Linked DNA regions of Homo sapiens: region 1 is linked to region 2. Evidence: fine-mapped expression QTL. Tissue or cell type: caudate. Region 2 holds a variant in brackets; the other region holds the start of a gene. All regions are shown on one strand. Distances are between the middles of the regions.

The links. PIP is the estimated chance that this variant, and not a neighbour inherited with it, causes the effect.
Region 1: GRIK4 starts here. The variant in region 2 is fine-mapped to the expression of GRIK4 in caudate (GTEx, PIP 0.97).

Annotation. Positions count from the first base shown.
Region 1 is chr11:120,510,549-120,513,287 of GRCh38, forward strand. It overlaps GRIK4 (glutamate ionotropic receptor kainate type subunit 4), which reads left to right and starts at 1,200. Exons shown (of 21, transcript NM_014619.5): 1 at 1,200-1,339. RefSeq lists silencers at 811-890, 1,071-1,270.
Region 2 is chr11:120,813,269-120,815,768 of GRCh38, forward strand. GRIK4 (glutamate ionotropic receptor kainate type subunit 4) reads left to right here. Exons shown (of 21, transcript NM_014619.5): 5 at 2,110-2,207. LOC105369532 (a long non-coding RNA gene) reads right to left here. Exons shown (of 3, transcript NR_133008.1): 2 at 2,064-2,191. Among named protein-coding and RNA genes, the nearest start is that of TBCEL, 210 kb to the right of the region's middle. The variant G/A (reference allele first, on the strand shown) is at 1,556.

The sequences.
Region 1 (2,739 bases), 300 kb before region 2:
CGCCCAGGCTAGCCAGCCAGCCCTCCCCGGGGAATGCAACGTCCAGAACAGTCTATAGTCCCGATAGTATGCCTCATGCGTGAGACCTGACCAAGGACGTCTGTGAACAAACCCTTCACAGAGAGCTTAATGAGATTGTGGGAGTGCTGGTGGTTGGGTGTGGGGATACAGGCCATTGAAGGTGAGAGGGCCGGTGTGATCAGTTTGGTGGTCTGCCCAAGACAGAGACTCTGCGGGTTGGATAAGAGGGAGCTAATAGGTTTGAGGGGGTCACGTGTCCCTTGCCCTCCCTCCTATTCCCCCAGGACTCCCTCTTCACCCAGCCTCCTCCTAAGGGCAACTCTGTTGTATTAGGATGAACCACACGGTGTACTGAAATGAACCGCGCGTCAGAAAGCGGGGTTGCCTCCTGGGTCCTGCCACTTGCTCCCCGTGTGTTCTTGGCCTGGTCCCTTCACCTCTCCTAGCCTCAGGATCTTCATGCGTAACATGAGATCCTCCCAAGATGTTGGTATGTATACAACAGTGCTCTGGAATGACTCCATGCAAGCTGTTGCTCTTCAGTCTCCTGAACAAGGTGCTCTTGTCTCGTCCCATGAAACCTCCACCTCTCCATCTTCCGCACCACTGAGGCCGCAGTCTCTTCTAACGGGGCACGCTCGTCCCCCGCGCTGTTTCCCGAATGCCACCAGGGGGCGCCCCTTGCTCGCTGAAGCCGCCGGGCTAATAACTCCTCGGGGCCGGGGCGGGCTGCCCCTTTGCGCAGGGCGGTGGAGTGTGCGGGCTGCGCCGGGTTCCCCACCTGAGGTCCGTACCTCGCAGAGCCCGCTTGGCCGCGCGCCCCTAGCCTCTGCCGGGCGCCGCTCCCCAGCCGGGCGCCTCTCGCTCGGCCCCGGGCCCCCGGGCAGCCGCAAGTTTGCCCCCGGCCGCGCGGACCCGCGCCCGCCCTGCCCGCAGCAGCCCCCGCCGTTCCCGCCGCCCCCGCCGCCCCCGCGCCTGGGCTCCCGGGCGACGCTCCGAGGGGCGCTGGGGGGCGCGTGCAGCTGCCCGCGGGGCTCCGGCCCGGCCCCGAAGGGGCGCCCCCCCGGCCGGCCGTGCGCGGGGCCGCAGCAGTTCCCCAGCTGCCCGCCGGGCGGCGCCCCGCGCCTCGCTGCGCTCCTCCCGCGCTCCCCGCGCCGGGCTCGCTCGCAGCCGGACACAGACTGCCTTCAGCTGCGGGCGGATCGGGCTGGAGCCGCCACGGCTGCTGCGGAAGAGGAAAAACGGCCAACAGCAGCCCCGCGGCCGGCCCGGCAGCGCCCGGCCCCCGGCTCAGCCCCCGGAGTGCGGAGCCGACCAGGTAAGGGCAGCGGCCCCCCGCGGCGCCCCCGGCCCGCTCCCTGCGCTGCCCCCGCGCCCCCGAGTCCCCTCCGCGCTGGCCCTTCCCGCACCCCGACTTCTGACGTCTCCGCCGCTCCTGCCCTCGGGGGCCGCGGCCCCGCACCCCTGCCCCGGCCCCCGCCCCCGCGCCCTCCTCCCCGCTCCCGCCTCCCGCCAGCCCGGTCCCTGGCACTTCGGTCCCTGCGTCTCCAGATTCGCCGCCGAACCCCCCACCGCTCTGCTCCCGTAGTTCCTCCAGTCTTCACCCCGGTCCGTCTCCCTCCCTCCGCATCCCTTCCCCGGGCTCGCGGTCCTCCCGCTCTGGTCCTCCCCCTCCCCGTGCAACTCCCAGCCCTGCCTCTGTCCCCTGCAGGGATGACAGCCCCTTCCCAGCCTGGCGCGTCTCCCCTACACCTCGTCACCCTCCGCTTCTCCCAGCGCCTCTGTTCCCCGGCTGCAGCCCCCCATCCCGGCTCAGCCTGGCATCCCACCAAGCCCCCTCCCCCTTTCCTCACTGCCATCTGCCTCGACTGCCCCCTGCCCCTGCACTGGACTCGGGCCACCACCACACCCCCCCACCCTGCACACCGCCTTGCTTGGGGGAACCAGCGTCCTATCAGAAATGATCCTCTTTCCCGGGGAGAATGGGGCTCCCACCCATCCCACCCTAGTTCATCCGAGTGGGAAGTGAGGGAGAAACTCTAGAGACCTGCAATGGGCGCGTGATGGGGGAGGGGGCTGGGGCGGAGGGGGAGGGGAGCTGATTTAGATTCTCTTCAGTGAGGACTGGCAGAGCTGTGCGCTCCGACCTGGCTGGGGTGGAGGGCGTGCAGGCGACAGCTGGGACAGGGGGTTCAAGGCACTGAGAGCACCTGTGTCTCTTTCCCTGGCTCCCTTGAGCTGAGCAAAGTGAGGGGAGGAGTTGGAGCCTGGGGAGAGTTGGCTGAGGGCCTTGGGGTGGTGGAGGAGGCGGCCGAGGGGGCTGGGCCCCGGGCGCCTCTGGCCCGTCTGCCTGGCAGTGGTGGGGCAATGCGGGCCGAGCCACTCCCGGGCTGGACCTTGGGCTGCGTGGCTCTTGGCATCTGTACTTGATGCTGCCATCTTCCTCTTGGTGCTGTTGTCTGGTGATGCCACGCGGTGCCACCTCCCTGCCTCCCTCCAGTGGCTCTCCTGGGCATGTCTCCCAAGGGTCTGGGTTGTCTGGGAAGAGGAGGGGAGCTCTGAGCACAGCTGGGCCCTTTTGCCAGGCAGTGGGCAGCTGTCAAGACCAGGCCAAGAGGTCTGAGGGCTGGTCAGGAGGACTGAGCCCTGCCAGGAACAAAGAACTACCTTCACTTTCACTCCCTATGGGTCACCTGGTTGGTAGTGACACTTCTAGGA
Region 2 (2,500 bases):
GAGCGGAGGCACTTCACGTCTCTGGGGTGCTGTGTCCTTACCAGTAAAATCAGGAGATAAGACCCCACTCCCCCAAGGCAGTTGTAGGGATCTGAGGGGATGATGAACTTCAAGCACCTAGTGGGCTGTAAGAGTTAAGTTGGCTGAGGTCACATGAGATAACCCCCATGGAAGTAGCTTGGAATTTGAAGAGACTCTTCAAAGATGAAGCCTGATCATCACTACTTTGGCCAGACACTTAGTACTGATGAGTCCTCCAGTCAGCTGAGATTTTGGGATGTTGTGGGATGCCTGCCCAAGCCATAGGCTAAGAGAAGACTCCAAGATCTATAGTTCATATGGTAAATTGCAATGCTGGGATTTGAACCCTGGTGTTCTGCCTTGCTGCCTGTACCCCGTTCAGATGATCACCTGGCTGTATTGGACTCTAACCCAGAAGAAAGAGCGTCCATGTGGCAGGTGTGGCTTTACAGCTGGCTCAGTAAGAAACCTTGTACTAGTCCCTTAACCTCAATTGCTAGGCCAGGGAAATTGCTCTGCCTGACTCCTAATACAAGTAGGAAGAAAATACATATGGAGTTAAGCCTTGAGTTTTGCAGACAAGGATGCAGTGGGGAACCTCGATTGCATTTTCTGAGGGACGGCCCCTTGGCTCTGATACCACAGTGTGTGCACGGAGAATTCTTTCCTGTCCTCTCTCACTGTGTTTCCCTCTTTCTCCCATCCTTCCTTTCTCAGTCTCTAGCATTTTAAAATCTTAGATTCTCTCCCCCTCCTCTGATTACACATCCCATTCCTTTAGACATTCACACAGCAAATCTGAGCTGGGCTCCTACTCTCTAGAATGCATTGTGCTGGACACTGAAGAGATGAGAAGTGGGGATTGGGAGATAAATGTGGCTCAGTTCCTGTCTTCAAGAGGTTTGAAATCTAGTGAGAGGAGAGCACTAAACAACAAACCCAAATAGATACAGTGTCTTAGACTAGAGGTATGAACCCCAGGCCTTGGGAGCCCAAGGCAGTGTTAATTCCATCTAAAGGAGCCCAGTGGTGGGGTGCGGTGGCTCATGCCTGTAATCCCAGCACTTCGGGAGGCCAAGGCAGGTGGATCACTTGAGGTCAGGAGTTCAAGACCAGCCTGGCCAACATGGTGAAACCCCGTCGCTACTAAAAATACAAAAATTAGCCAGGCGTGGTGGTGGGTGCCTGTAATCCCAGTTACTCCTGAGGCAGGAGAATTGCTTGAACCTGGGAGGCGGAGGTTGCAGTGAGCCGAGATCGCACCACACCACTGCACTCCAACCTGGGTGACAGGGTGCGACTCCATCTCAATAAATAAATACATAAATAAGCCCAGGAAGGTCTAAGGAGAAGGTGGTGTCAGAACTGATCCCGGACAGGTGAGCGAGTGTTCAGTCCAGGAGGGAAAGGCCAGATGCCAGGCATGCTGGTCGGTCAGGACGGGACCTGCTCTACCTGGGGGAGGGAACATGCCAGGCTTCAGGACGAAGTGAACGACGGGGGCATTGACAGATGAAACTTCTTTCTGCCTCTC[G/A]CTTTCTCCCTGCCTCCCATTTTCTTTCCCTTTTTCTTGCCTCCGCTCCTTTTGACTTTAGCCACCCCTGCTCTCTTCCTGTCTGCGTCATCCTCGCCCTCCTTCATACCCCCGCCTGCCTGCCTGCCTTCCTTCTCCCAGACTCTCTTTATATTTGGGGGGACTAATGCAGCAGCTGTGCTGGGGCTCCCCCTACCCCCCTGCAGGCCAGGCCAGGCCGTGGGATGGAATCTGCAGGTTTGTTCCATTAGCCTCTGTCCTTCTGTGACAGTCCAGACAATTTATACACCCTGTTGGCTATGGCCGTATGTTGTCATAACCTGGGTCATTTCCTCATTTAATGCTGCCCATAAACTCCAATAAAACTGTCCTGGAGCCCAGTCGTCCAGGGGAGAAGGAGAGACTCTGGGTTTCGAAGGGTTGGAGCAGGGGCCTGGGCAGCGGGTGTGCAGAAGGTGAGGGGGCAGCGGGTGAAGAGGAGAGGACTGGGCCATGGCGCAAGCCCGACCTGATGAGTGCTTTGCTTCTTTCCCTGTCCCTGCCGCTGGCTGCAGTGTGTCAGATCCTCCCCAAGGGGGTGGTCGCTGTCCTCGGACCATCGTCCAGCCCAGCCTCCAGCTCCATCATCAGCAACATCTGTGGAGAGAAGGAGGTGAGTGTGAGGCAGGGCTGGGGAATATCTGTGTGCTGGAGCCTGTGCCCAGGGTCCAAAGATAGGGTTGATTCTCAAGGGCTGGAAGAGCCTGTCAAGGCTGGGTTGGTATCATTAATAACAACAACATAAATACAAATACAGAAGCAGTGGGCTTGCCCTGCTCCAGGATGTTTGCATGGAGGGGTCTCGGAGGAGGTGTTTGACAGCAGGAATCTGAAGCGGAGCTCCTCCCTGTCTTAGGGTCCCATGGCGGTGCCCCCAGCGGCCTCTTGGTGGTGGTGGGTAGAGGG